Homo sapiens: one gene and its partners. The protein of the gene in region 1 purifies or fractionates together with the protein of each later gene. This does not show direct contact. Each region holds a gene or a part of one and is shown in the gene's direction. Other genes may lie near its edges.

Region 1 (4,725 bases):
GATTGTTGTGAGAATTAGAGAGTGCTTAGCAAAGAGAATTAGAGCACTTAGCAAAGAATCTGGCACAAGAAAGAAGCACTCAGTAAAGGTTAGCTATTGATATTATCATTATGCAAATCTAAAGGGGCTTAGATCTTTTCTTCTTTATCTTCTCATTCTCCCTTTCTTTCCTTTTCTCTTTTCTGTTTTTCATAAATAATAAAAAAAAAGCCTCACAGTTCATTCAGCAAGGTGGAAGTTTATTTAGCTCTCCACCAAAAGTCTGGATGTGAAGTAATCCAGGATGGGTGTGGAAGCTCTGAAACCCAGGCCCCTTCCCTATTAGGTGTGGCCCTCGTCCTCAGTATTCAAGATGGCAGCTAGAGCTCTAGGGATCATGTCTGCATTCCACATAGCAAGATGGAGGAGAGGAAAAGAAAACTCCGGACGGATGCTTCCTAAAGGTTGCTTACTCCCACACTGGCCTGGACTTAATCACCAGAAAGGCTAAAAATGTGACCAATATTCCAGGTAGTCATGTACCCAGAAAAATGTGATATTACAATGGAAAATTGAGAGGAAGAAGTATGGAGGAACAATTATTGTTCCCTGATGTACCCAACCCCGGGGGTCTAACAGATTTGGGTCATTCCCCAGAAACCCATTCTCATCCAGCTTTTACGTGCTTATTTCTCAGGTAGGGAACACCTTCCCCAAAAAAGTTAGTTGCATAGTTTGCTTATCCTACTCAGCTTGGCTTACTTTCTAAATTCCTCTCATACCTTTTACCTCTCATCCACCAACTTCATTCATTTTCTAACTGTCCAATTTTAATAAGCAATACAATTATTTTATTATAGAAAAGTTAGAGAACACAGCTAAGCACTTAGAAAAAAAGCGTTTTTTCAATATTCAAAAATCTCACCACTTAGAGATAACCACTTCTAAAATATTGGCATATAGTCATCTAACATTTTCCCTAGATAAAAAACATACATATGTATTTATAATGAAAATCTAGTCTACATAATTATTCTTAACCTCTTCTGTTACACTTAATGGTATATTATCAGTAACGCTCAATATTATTAATTATAGAAAAACATCAATTTTAATGACTGCAAAGTTTTTCATTGTATGGGTATGGGTGTATAATAATTTATTCAACCAATTCCCTGTTTATTCCACAGCATTATGTTAAACCCCCTAGCACATATATCTTTGCTCATTTGTCCACCAGTTTCCTGGGGATGAGCTGTGTTCCTGTGGTTTTTTCACCCCTGGGGTCTCCTTACTTATCTGGGGACCAGCAGAAAAGGACACCTCCACCATTCCATCAGCAAAGTAATGTTGGGTCTTATCTCTACCACTAAGCTGCTCGGAATTCTTCTTTCAAATGATCATTGCGGATTCAGGAGATCCATGAAGACCTAAATTAATGCCTCTCTATACCCCACTGCATGAATAGCAAGATTATGAACAGCAAGACTGCTACAATGCGAGGTGATTACATAATCCCACTGCTTGGAAAAGCACAAAATAAAATACGACCTTAGGTGACTGAAGCACTTCCTCTTAGTCTGTTAGAACTTGCAGTTTACCCAGCAGACTTCGAGCAAGACTGGAGTGAGGCCATTTCTATGTGAAAAAAACAATTTCAATTAGTAAAAATGCATTTGACTGAAATAATTATTTAGACAACTGATTTGACAAACGATTATGCTTGAGCTGATTTTTTTTAAAAAACTGACGATTGATCTCTGACTAATTGTTTCTTTGTCTCAGCTGAGCTTCCTAATGATCCAAATGCTCATTTTATAAATGAATACAGTTTAAGAAAGATTAAGTAACTTAGCCATGATTACACAAAAGGAAAGAAGTAGAGCCAGAATTCAAAATCAGTATTCAGACCCAGAAAGAGTCACTGACTCCCATCTCATAGACGTAGAGTCAAGTTCACAGCCCTGTTCCTTGGGTAGTGATTAAGAAAAGGGGTTCCAGCATCAGGTAATCTGAGTTCATGTCCCATATCTGCCATTTCCCAGTTGTGTCATCTTATGCAAGTTAATAAACCACTCTGTGTCTCTGTCACCCTATCTTATAAATGGGGATGATGCGTGTCTATCTCCAAGGGCTGCCTAGATTAAATGAGATGATCCACATACACACTTAGCACATAGGAAGTGCTCGGTAATTAGTTATTAATGTTATGTAGGTGTCGTCTGAAAACCTTGGCCAAAAGGGTCATAGACATGGCGGTCATCAGGGTTCAGGTGTACATGTGAAGGTTTGTTACACAGGTAAACTCGTATCACGGGCATTTGTTGTGCAGGTTATTTCATCACCCAGCAATGAATGAGACTTCCTGTTGCTCCTCATTCTCCCCAGCATTTACCATTGTCAATGTCTCAGATTTTCACCCTGCTAGTAGATGGGAAAACTGACAACCATGCCTGCAAGTCTGATACATGCATCTGTAAATGTACATGGAACCAAAGAAGAGGAATCCAAAAAGCAGCTAGTGAAACCAGAGCAGCTCCCCGTATATACTGCACCACCGCTCCAGTCTAAATATGTTGAAGAGCAGCCTGGTCATTTATAAATGGGCTTTGCTTCCATCTACACTGCAACTGGTCATTATACTGGCTGGTGCAAGGATGTTTATGTCTTTGTGAAAAATGGGATAATGGATACAGTACAATTTGGGAAAGATGCTTATGTCTATCTGAAGAATCCTCCTCGAGATTTTCTTCCGAAAATGGGAGTTATTACGGTTTCAGGATTGGTGGGCTTGGTTTCAGCGAGAAAAGGTTTTAAGTTTAAGAAAATTACTTATCCTCTGGGACTGGCCACTTTATGAGCAACTGTTTGCTACCCAGTTCAGTCAGTAATAATTGCTAAGGTAACAGGGAAAAAGGTATATGCTACAAGCCAGCAAATTTTTGAAGCAGTTAAATCATTGTGGACAAAAAGCAGCAAAAAAAGAGTCACTCCCTAAACCTAAAGAAAAAAAATTAAGCTAGGATCCCCCGCCGAAATAGAAGTACCTGCAAAAACAACTCACATCTTGAAATGCTCAGTGCCCTTGCCAACAGAACTCAGCTCTGAAGCAAACACCAAATCAGAATCCACCTCAGGTGCTACACAGTTTATGCCTGACCCCAAGTTCATGGATCACAGGTGGTCCCACCCAGAACATATAGACAAGTATAGCACTGGAACCTGAAGCAGACTGCATAGAGAGACTACATAGAAAACTACAAGATGTATGAAGTTGCAAATAATGATGAAAAAAATCATGTAATGGGTAACTGATACATAGAGTATTATTTAAACCAAGTTTTTCCCTTACCTCTCCAAATGTGCAATTTGATAAATTGCATAAGTGGTTAACACACAAACTGTGAATGCAATGCAAACAATATTAAATGATTGATGAGGAGACTTAGGTAGAAGTATTAGCTTGAATTTAATGAGCTTTAGGGGCCCATAGTTAAAAAAAAAAAAAAAAAGACATGAACTCCAGTGAGACTAAAATCTGAAAATGCATATATGTATGTATAAAGACATACATATTTATATGTATAATCATATATTTCTGCTCTAGCTTTCCCTAATTAATGTCAGTTAAATTAGAATGGTGTGTAGAAAGATGTGTTTCCCTCTTTTTTTCCATTTCCTAGAGCTGGAATAAAATATCCATGTTTTATGGGAAAAAAAAGTATTATGCAGGTATGCCCCAGAGATAGTGTAGGTTCAGTTTTGGACCACCACAATAAAGCTAATACCATAATAAAGCAAGTCAAACACTTTTTTTTCATTTCCCAGTGCATATAAAAGTTGTATTTGGCTGGGCATGGTGGCTCACGCCTGTAATGCCCTTTGGGAGGCCAAGGTGGGTGGATCATGAGGTCAGGAGATCGAGACCATCCTGGCCAACATAGTGAAACCCCGTCTCCACCAAAAATACAAAAATTAGCCAGGTGTGGTGGTGTGCGCCTGTAATCCCAGCTAGTCGGGAGGCTGAGGCAGGAGAATCACTTGAACCCGGGAGGTGGAGGTTGCAGTGAGCTGAGATCACACCACTGGACTCCAGCCTGGCAACAGAGCAAGACTCCATCTCAGAAAGAAAAGAAAACAAAAAAGTTGTGTTTACACTATGCTGTAGTCTATTAAGTGTGCAATAGCATTATGCCTAAAAAACAATATATCTAACTTAATTTAAAATACTTTATTACTAAAAAAAAAACCTTAATGATGATCTGAGCCTTCAGCAAGTTGTAATCTTCTTGCTGGTGGTGGGTCTTGCCTCAATATTGATGGCTTGTTGCTTCACCTTGCATTTTTATGTTATAGAGACAGCTTCTCTTCTTAAACCTCAGACTATCTCTGCCAGCTTCAAACTTTTTTTCTGCAGCTTCCTCATCTCTCTCAGCCTTCATAGAATTAAAGAAAGTTAGGATCTTGATCTTGATTAGGCTTTGGCTTGAGGGTCTGTTGTGTCTGGTTTGATCTTCTACACAAACCAGTCAAACTTTCTCCATATCGGCAATAAGGCTGATTCACTTACTTATCATTTATGTATTCACTGCAGTAGCACTTCTGATTTCCTTCATGAACTTTTCTTTTGCATTCACAGCTTGACTGTTTGTCACAAGAGGCCTAGCTTTTGGCCTATCTCAGCTTTAGTCATGCCTTCCTCATTAAGATTAATCATTTCTAGCTTTTGATTTAAAGTGAGAGATG
Region 2 (5,212 bases), on another chromosome or scaffold:
CTAGGTTGGGGTGCAGTGGTACGATCATGGCTCACAGAAGCCTCAAACTCCTGGACTCAAGTGATCCTCCTGCCTCAGCCTCTCCAGTAGCTGGGACTATAGGTGTGTGCCACTGCACCCAGGTAATTTTTATTTTTTATTTTTTGTAGAGACAGGGTCTTGCTTTGTTGCCCAGGCTGGTCTCGAACTCCTGGCTTCAAGCAATCCTCCTGCCTCAGCCTCTCCAGTAGCTGGGACTATAGGTGTGTGCCACTGTACCCAGGTAATTTTTATTTTTTATTTTTTGTAGAGACAGGGTCTTGCTTTGTTGCCCAGGCTGGTCTCGAACTCCTGGCTTCAAGGAATCCTCCAGCTTCAACTTCCAAAAGCATTGGGATTACCGGCATGAGCCATCACTCCAGCCCCTTAGGGCTTATATACCATAGGGGAGGGGTGGTTCAGAAGGGATGTGTAGGACAATTGAAGTATAATAACATCAAGTTGTTTGAATTAAGGACAGAACATACTGGGTAGATACCTGCTCTTACACAAGGAACAATAGATAAAGTAGAAATCTTAGAGGCCTTCCCAGAACTGGGGTCAATCAGAAGTCAACACGGAGGATTAGCTTCCAAGATGGAGCTGCTTTCGCCTCCACATCCAGCAATTCCACTCTTAGATTCCAATTCCACTCAACAGAAATGGAAACATAGGTCCATAAAAAAACTGTACATGACTGTGTACAGCAGCCTTATTCACAATAGCCAAAATGTGGAAACAACTGAAATGTCCATCAACTGATGAATGGATAAACAAAATGCAACAGAATATGCTCCAGCAATCTAAAGGAACGAAGTACTGTACAGATACATGCTACAACATAGATGAACCTTGAAAGCATTACGCTAAATGAAAGAAGCCAGACACAAAAGGCCACATATTGTATGGCTCCATTTATATGAAATATCCAGAATAGGCAAACCCATAGAGACAGGAAATTGATTATTGTTTGCTAGGGCTGGGGTTTGGAGGGTAGAGTTAGGAAGAGTGACAGCTAGAGGGTATGGGTTTCTTTTACATGTGATGAAAATGTTCTCAAATTGTGGTGATTGTTGAACATATCTGGAAATATACTAAAAATCGCTGAATGGTATACTTTAAATGGTTGACTTGTTTGGTATGTGAGTTATATCCCAATAAAGCTGTTATATAAAAAAAAATCATGCGAGCAATTATCTCAACAATCAAGAGACTGTGTTAAAGATTCTTTGCTTGGCCAAACTTCAGTTAGGCTTCTGAATCTTCTCCCAGGTCCTTGTGTGCACTTCCTTGTAAATGCAGTGTTAGGAAGTAACACTGCCACGGCAGTTTAGCAAGAATCCCCCACCCTCCATATGTGATCAAAATTCTTTACTCCTACCCTTAGTATCTGACCCCCTGGCCTGCCTTCACTGGGACTCCTGTTAGGTTGGTTCAGCCAGAATTTCCCCCAGAATTGATGTTTCCTCTTAGCAGTTTTCCGAACACCTGCTCCTTGCTCCTTGGCTATAAATCTCCACTTATTCCTGGTGTATTTGGAATAGTTACGACTGAGTTGCCTTCACCCCTTTAACTTCCGTCTTTTTTTTTTTTTCACAATGGAGGACACAAAACGTTGTTATTTCAAGTCTTTGTGGCCAACAGATTGGTGGTTTATGGGCCAGCATCCCTTTTTATGCGTAAAATATTTAAAACGCAGCCTGCAATGGTTGGTAAAGTGGTGAAACGTTTAGTGTGTGAGGTCGGATCCTGGTCTGGCCGCTGGCCCTGGCGATCCTCTGAGGCGGCCTGAGTTTGGGGCGCCTCGTGTCACCGCGCGCCCCTCCTCCGGGCCTGAGTCACGGTGCCGCCGGAGTCCCCACGCGAGGATGCTGCGGTGAGCGCGGCCGGGACGCCGCGTCGGGCTCTCGGCCGCCCAGCGGCGCCGCAGGGGAAGCCAGGCCGGCAGCCGCGCGCTCCCCAGCCGGCCACCAATCCCGCCCTCCCCGGCTCCTCCGGACCTCCTCGGCAGGCGGCGGCGGGGCCTGCCTGTGCGCTCTGCGCCCGCCCGCGCCTACCCTCCATGGCGTTTATCCGGAAGAAGCAGCAGGAGCAGCAGCTGCAGCTCTACTCCAAGGAGAGGTGCGCGCCCAGCTGAAGAAGGGCCCAGCCGGGGGCCTAGTCGGGGCCGGTCGTGGGGACGCCGGCCGGAGATCTGAGGGACGGGAGGCGGCGTGGGGGCCGGGCACGGAGGCAGGGGCCGGACGCGTGTCCAGGGCCTGGGCTGGGGGCTGTGGCGGAAACCTGAGGTCGGGGTGAGAGGCCGGGGGCCTGGTCTGGGCCGGAGCCTGCCGGGGACAGGAACTGGATGACGGGCCAGGCCAGATTCCACCGCGGAGCCGAGGCATGCCGAGCTATCCGGCAGTGCAGGTCCCGGCGGCCGCGGGCAGCTCACCCGGAAGGCCGCGCGGGGTCCGGGCGTGGATCCCGGCACGCGAGCCCGGGCGTTCGCAGGGGAGGGTGAGTACGCTGCCCGGCGGGCACCCCCTTTCTAATCCTTCCCCTTAATCGGGTCCAGGCACTCGGCGCCGGCGCCGCAGAGTTGGTCGCCGGGCGGCACCGAGCAGGCCGGCGACCACCCACTCGCATTGCCGCGCCTTTTTCCTGCCGACTCCTTTAGACACAGGACTAGCTCCATGCCCTGGAAGGCTGGGAGGGGGGCCGCCGGAAAGGCCTGATTCTGAGGAAAGCCAAGGTCCTGCCTCCCAAACACTTGCTCCCCGCGCAGTGGACCTTGTGTTGGAAAGCTTTGCAGTCGAAATCGCGGTGCGGCAGCGGAGCACTCATTCTCACCAGCATCCCAGTAAGGATTTGGGATCCCTTGAGCTAAAATGGTCTCACAGCAGTTCCCTTTCAGATATGCTGGACCTGTCCCCAAGGGAAGTCTCATAAGAAAGCTCACTTCGGCTCTATGTATAGTTCCCAGGGCATTTTTGGTGACAGAAACAACTTGCTCGGTCTGCAGCTCAGATGCCAAAAGGAAAGGGGGGCTGAATCATTTTACAGACACACTGTTTTGATTGTGAGAGCCACAGATCTTCCAGTGCTGCTAGCCTGTCACGTTGTCTCATCAGTGAATACCAGCAAAGCAGGTTACACGTGGGAATACAAGTGCAGACTTCAAGATTTGTCTACACTTGTTTTATAAGGGTTGACTCGACCCCTTTGATCCAGACATTCATCTTTCTCTAATCTGTAATGTTGGTCTAACCAGTGTGTCCACAGTACGAAATGTCATTTTTCTACTGTAGAGAAGAAGATACGATACACAGAAAACGTATCTCAGATATGGCTTTCAAAAATGTTTTTGGTGATGTGATTAGGTTTTAGTCACAGAAAGGGTTGTTTATTAAATAACTGAGCCCTAACTATGTAACTCACACTTGGGGATGCCCTTCTGACTGAATTTGTAATGCATTTTTCTTGTGGAAAGAGCTTGAGTGGAGATTCTTTGTTTAGTACCAACAATATTAAGACTTGTTGGTGCTCTGTATTGAGTGGGTGAACATTCATATTTAAATTGTGAGAACTTTGACACACTTGAATTGGCATCATGTTGTATGATATGAGTCATTCGTGCCAATACTCATATTGGCCTTTTTGATATACAGGGAAACGTTTTTTCCTTGGTTCTGGCTGTTATTTCGATGAAGTAATTTGTGTTCAATTTGGCTAGCTCATACAGCTCCGTGGTGTCACACAAACCTTGAAACCTGTACTTGCATTTCCATGTATATGCTGCTTTGTTAGAATTCATTGATTAGACAACAACGTGATAGGCTGGCAGTGTTCAGAGAGAACTCTAGCTCTTGGCAACCAAAACATTTATCTATCCAGTCAGGAGGCATCAACTGTTCCTGAGCATCAGTCATCTGAAAAAGTTGGCGCCATGTGTTTTATATTTATTTGAATTATAACTTGCTGAGTGCCCAAATTGTTTAGTGCTCTGCCCCATGGCTTTGCAACCTGGGCTGATGGGCATACTCCATTCAATGCATAGAATATGCATTTGAATGACAGGAATCTGTCTCACATCAGGTATGCACTGGAATCAAGGAGTCTCTTTTATAAATCTTAGAATTCATTCTGAAACAGAGGAATATTTTAAGGCAACTTTATTAAGCCCCAAATTTACCATTTCTGCCCAGATTTTTCCGGGTTTATCCCCTTGCATCAATAAACACAAATTAGCAAATGGATTGGATTCGTCATTGGCTCCAGCATACCCAGGAAAATTGTTACTTTTCTTGGAAAACTTGAAGAGGGGTTGTTTCAGAGGTTACCCATGAGAGGCCTCAACCTGTTCATTGTAAGTTCACTGGCGGCTCTCATGCTAATTAAGGGATTTTAGATTTCCAGAGCTACCAAATATTGACCCCAGAAAAGAAACTTGAAATGAGCATTTATTTCTCTTATTGTTAGGTTGATGTACTTTGATATTCCTGCAAAAGCAGAAGCATAGAGACTGACTAGGAGATTCTTGCATTGGTGGTTTAAACCAAGGTGGTGGCAGAATAAATGGAGGAAAGTGGATGGATTCTAGATGTTTTTAGGACGTGTGATTGACAGGTCTTGGTGTGGTGTATTGTCTGTGAGAGGTGATAAAGGAAGAATTCCAGCTAGGATTATCTGATAAAATACAGCACACCCAGTTAAGTTCGAATTTCAGATAAACAATGAATAATTTTTTAGTATAAGTAATTGCGATAGTATATGCAATATTTGGTATGTACTTATACTAAAATTTTTTTAGTATAAGTAAATGCAATAGTATATGCAATATTTGGTATATACTTATACTAATTTTTTTTATTTTTATTTTTTTGAGACAGAGTCTCGCTCTGTTGCCCAGGCTGGAGTGCAGTGGCGTGATCTTGGCTCACTGCAAGCTCCGCCTCCTGGGTTCACGCCATTCTCCTGCCTCAGCCTCCCAAGTAGCTGGGACTACAGGCGCCTGTCACCACGCCCGGCTAATTTTTTGTATTTTTAGTAGAGACAGGGTTTCACCGTGTTAGCCAGGATGGTCTCGATCTCCTGACCTCGTGATCCACCCACCCGCCTTGGCCTCCCAAAGTGCTGGGATTACAGGCGTGAGCCACCGTGCCCGGCCCTTATACTAAAATTTTTAAAAGTATATTATTTATCTGAAATTCAA
Region 3 (4,725 bases), on another chromosome or scaffold:
CCACCACTGGAGAGAGAGCCACATGCTGCTTCCCATCATATGTCTACCCGGACCCAACCCAGGAAGAAACATACCCGTCCAACATTTTATCCCATGAGCAAAGCAACTTCTGTAGAACTGCTCATGGAGATTTTGTCTTAACTTCAAAACGTGCGTCTCCTAATTTATTTTCTGAGGCACAGTATCAAGAAGCACCTGTGGAAAAAAATAATTTAAAAGAAGAAAACCGTAACCATCCTACAGGTGAGCTACTTATGTTTCTCTCTTCTGTGCTTATAGTGTTACTAAGTTGTCCTAAGATGAAGCCTTTCCATGTTTTTTCTTTAAAAATTATTTTTTCAGAGATGGAGTGTTGCCGTGTTGCTCAGGCTGGACTCAATCTCCTGGGCACAAGTAATCTTCCCCCATCAGCCTCTCAGGTAGCTGGGACTATAGGCACGTGCTACCCTGCCAGCTCTTTCTGTATGGTTATTTTTTTTTGTCCCCTGTGGCGTGTTTTTTTTTTTTGAGACAGTCTCGCTCTGTCACCCAGGCTGGAGAGCAGTGGCACAATCTCAGCTCACTGCAACCTCTGCCTCTCGGGTTCAAGTGATTCTTGTGTCTCAGCCTCCCAAGTAGCTGGGATTACAGGTATGTGCCACCATGCCCAGATAATTTTGTGTATTTTTAGTAGAGATGGGGTTTCAACATGTTGGCCAGGCTAGTCTCAAACTCCTGGCCTCAAGTGATCTGCCTGCCTTGGCCTCCCAAAGTACTGGGATTGCAGATCTGAGCTACTGCACCCAACCATAATGCCTTGTTCCTAATTTAGAGTTAATTCATCGGTGTGGAAAGCTCAAATATGTTTTTCTTCTTTTTTATACAACATGTTTCCATAGCCTTTTATTTTGGAAAATTTCAAACATCTAGAAAAGTTGAAAGACCACTGCAGTTATTACTGATATACCCACCACCTAGATTGAGCAGTTAATATTTTGCTGTATTTACTTTGTCAGTGTATGTATGTGTATATATATCTTTTACATGTATATCCTTATCTTTACTTCTATATGTGTATAATTTGCTGAACCATTTCACTGAAAATAATATGCAGGTATCTTGTTACTTCATTCCAAATATTTCAGTATGCATCAAGCAAAAATTAGGACATTCATCTGTATAACCACAGTGCTATTATTGTATCTAAAGAAATTAATGATAATTCCTTAATATTCAAGTCCATTTTGGGATTCCCCCAGTTATCCCAAAATATCTTTTAAAGGTGCTTTTTTTTTAAAGGATCCAATCAAATTAATGCATATCCAGTCAAGTTCATGTATTACGTTTGATTCTTACAACTCTTTAGCCTTTTTAATCTCTAGAAAACCCCACACTTTTTTCCTCATGACATTAACCTTTTGAAGAATGTCAAGTGTCTTTATTTTATTTTATTTTATTTTTGAGACAGGGTCTTCCTCTGTCACTTAGGTTGGAGTCCAGTGGCACCATCTTGGCTTACTGCAACCTCTGCTTGCTCTCAGCCTCCCAGGTAGCTGGGATTACAGGCATGTGCCACCACGCCTGGCTAATTTTTTTTTTTTTTTTTTTTTTTTTTTTTGTAGAGACGGGGTTTCGCCACGTTGGCCAGGCTGGGCTCGAATTCCTGGCCTCAAGTGATTCTCCCGCCTTGGCCTCCCAAAGTGCTGGGATTACAGGTGTGAGCCACCACACCCGGCCTCAAGTGTCTTAATTGGAGTTTTGTAGTTTCTCTTAATTATATTAAAGAATTCCTTGAGTGTTGTAAAATCTGTGATATACATTACTTTTAATTAAAAAAATGTTTTAGCATAGTAACTTGTAGAATTCTCATGTTTTAAGACATTAATATGCTTTTCTTGAGCTAAATTGTTCTTAATTTTTATCTCAGGAGAAAGTATCTTATGTTGGGAGAAAGTGACAGAACAGATTCAGGAAGCAAATGATAAGAACTTACAAAAACATGATGATTCCTCAGAAGTGGCTAATATTGAAGAAAGGTATTGTTCGTGTTGAAAGTGAGAAATGTGACTATTTAGTACAATAGCTAGCCTTTATTATTGAACACTTTCTTTGTTTGAAAGATCTATATTTTTCTGGTTTTTGCTTGACTATGCTTTTAAGGTTAAAGATACAACCTATTATGTACTGTCAACAACAAAAGAGGTTGAGGAGATATGTCAAGCTGCCTTGACATTGTATTCTCGAAGCTTTTTCACTTAAGAGAAACATCTGGATAAAATCAATTTTCTCTCAAATAGTTAAATCCTATTTTTGGAGAAGGGAAAAATTAAGTATTGACATCTCCCATTTGGTGTCACTTATCAATTATAATTGCATTATCAGTTTAGTTACAGAATTTTAAAATATGGCAAAGATTAAGTATTTTATATTTTAAGTAAGTTGATTATTTTAAAAATTTATTTCAAAATTTTTAATATAATATGGACAAAATGACTTTTCTGATTATTGTTCTCACATTAAGGGCCTTTCTTAATTAAAAAAATGCATATTTAGTGATCTATTTTTGAAATACATTTTAAAGTTATTTGATGAATATGTTACTCCATGTGTTAATCTGTGGTCGATAGATGGACTTCAGAAGGGTTCTTAGGACTCCAAAGTCATGTGAAGAGTGTTGTATGTTTCTTTATTTTAAGGTGTGGAGAGGGATTGTGGCTTTTGTTAGGTTCTCAAAGGGAGGCACTGATTTTGGGAAAAGTTAGTTCTCCATGTTGTCAAGGGTTTCTATACCAGGCACACTAAGTGTAAAATATTCACACATTATGATTTGCATGTTAAATAACTTTCTGTTTCTAATTAGGCCCATTAAAGCTGCTATTGGAGAAAGGAAACAGACCTTTGAAGATTACTTAGAAGAACAAATTCAGTTGGAAGAGCAAGAACTGAAGCAAAAACAGCTGAAGGTCAGCAATTGTGCTCTTCTGATTAAATCATTCTAAGGCTTTAGAGATTTATCTATAATTTGCCTTAAAAATAACTTTGAGATCACTTGGATATACCAAAATTAATTCAAATATTATTCTTTTATTTTAGGAAGCAGAAGGACCATTGCCAATCAAAGCAAAACCAAAACAACCATTTTTAAAACGAGGAGAAGGTTTAGCTAGATTTACTAATGCCAAATCTAAGTTTCAAAAAGGCAAAGAAAGTAAACTAGTGACTAACCAGAGCACTTCCGAGGACCAGCCGCTGTTTAAAATGGATAGACAGCAACTCCAGCGGAAAACCGCTCTTAAAAATAAAGAGCTGTGTGCAGACAACCCTATCCTTAAAAAGGACAGTAAAGCTAGAACCAAGAGTGGTTCTGTCACCCTCAGTCAGAAGCCGAAAATGCTGAAGTGTAGTAACAGGAAAAGTCTTTCTCCGTCAGGATTGAAAATACAGACGGGGAAGAAATGTGATGGGCAGTTTAGAGACCAGATCAAATTTGAAAACAAAGTCACATCTAATAATAAAGAAAATGTAACTGAGTGTCCAAAACCTTGCGATACTGGCTGCACAGGGTGGAATAAGACACAAGGTAAAGACAGACTTCCTCTTTCAACAGGGCCGGCCAGCCGGCTGGCTGCTAAGAGCCCCATAAGGGAGACCATGAAAGAGTCTGAATCTTCTCTTGACGTTTCTCTTCAGAAAAAGTTAGAGACTTGGGAACGAGAAAAGGAAAAGGAAAATTTGGAATTAGATGAATTTTTGTTTTTAGAACAAGCTGCTGATGAAATATCATTTTCTAGTAATTCCTCATTTGTACTGAAAATCTTAGAAAGGGATCAACAGATCTGCAAAGGTCACCGGATGTCTTCCACCCCTGTCAAAGCTGTGCCACAGAAGACAAATCCGGCAGATCCCATTAGTCATTGTAACCGCAGTGAGGATTTGGACCACACTGCACGTGAGAAGGAGAGTGAGTGTGAAGTCGCACCCAAACAACTTCATTCATTGTCCTCAGCTGATGAATTGAGGGAACAGCCTTGTAAAATCAGGAAAGCCGTCCAAAAGAGCACTTCTGAAAATCAGACTGAATGGAATGCACGTGACGATGAAGGTGTTCCAAATAGTGACAGTAGCACTGACTCTGAGGAACAGCTTGATGTTACCATAAAACCATCGACTGAGGATAGAGAGAGGGGCATCAGCAGCAGAGAGGATAGCCCACAAGTCTGTGATGATAAGGGGCCTTTTAAGGACACCAGGACCCAAGAAGATAAAAGGAGAGATGTTGATCTGGATTTGTCTGATAAAGATTACAGTAGCGATGAGTCTATCATGGAAAGCATAAAACATAAAGTGTCTGAGCCCTCGAGATCCTCATCCCTAAGTCTGAGTAAAATGGACTTTGATGATGAAAGAACTTGGACTGACCTTGAAGAGAATTTGTGTAACCATGATGTTGTTCTTGGGAATGAATCCACTTATGGGACGCCGCAGACATGCTACCCTAATAATGAAATAGGTATCCTGGACAAAACAATAAAAAGGAAGATTGCACCAGTCAAGAGGGGAGAAGACTTGAGCAAGTCCAGGAGGAGCAGAAGTCCTCCTACATCGGAGCTGATGATGAAATTCTTTCCTTCTTTGAAACCAAAACCAAAGTCAGATTCACACTTGGGAAATGAACTCAAGTTAAACATAAGTCAAGACCAACCACCTGGTGAGTCAGAGCATTATAAAATATGTATCAGAATGTTA

Evidence for each region. The genes of interacting proteins can lie anywhere in the genome.
Region 2: the proteins of SH3RF2 (region 1) and NSMAF purify together in Homo sapiens (affinity purification with mass spectrometry, with the first as the bait; one study listed by BioGRID). This does not show direct contact.
Region 3: the proteins of SH3RF2 (region 1) and CPAP purify together in Homo sapiens (affinity purification with mass spectrometry; one large-scale study listed by BioGRID and IntAct). This does not show direct contact.

The regions. Positions count from the first base shown.
Region 1 is NC_000005.10:145,994,808-145,999,532, forward strand, and holds part of SH3RF2 (E3 ubiquitin-protein ligase SH3RF2), read left to right. Parts: intron 1-1,530; exon of another isoform or gene 1,531-1,617; intron 1,618-2,409; exon of another isoform or gene 2,410-3,693; intron 3,694-4,725. UniProt on the Homo sapiens protein: Has E3 ubiquitin-protein ligase activity. Acts as an anti-apoptotic regulator of the JNK pathway by ubiquitinating and promoting the degradation of SH3RF1, a scaffold protein that is required for pro-apoptotic JNK activation.
Region 2 is NC_000008.11:58,656,500-58,661,711, reverse strand, and holds the start of NSMAF (protein FAN), read left to right. Parts: upstream 1-1,858; 5' UTR 1,859-2,080; coding exon 2,081-2,139; exon of another isoform or gene 2,140-2,365; coding exon of another isoform or gene 2,366-2,517; exon of another isoform or gene 2,518-2,860; intron 2,861-5,212. UniProt on the Homo sapiens protein: Couples the p55 TNF-receptor (TNF-R55 / TNFR1) to neutral sphingomyelinase (N-SMASE). Specifically binds to the N-smase activation domain of TNF-R55. May regulate ceramide production by N-SMASE.
Region 3 is NC_000013.11:24,905,308-24,910,032, reverse strand, and holds part of CPAP (centrosomal P4.1-associated protein), read left to right. Parts: coding exon 1-243; intron 244-1,906; coding exon 1,907-2,015; intron 2,016-2,839; coding exon 2,840-2,942; intron 2,943-3,072; coding exon 3,073-4,687; intron 4,688-4,725. UniProt on the Homo sapiens protein: Plays an important role in cell division and centrosome function by participating in centriole duplication. Inhibits microtubule nucleation from the centrosome. Involved in the regulation of slow processive growth of centriolar microtubules.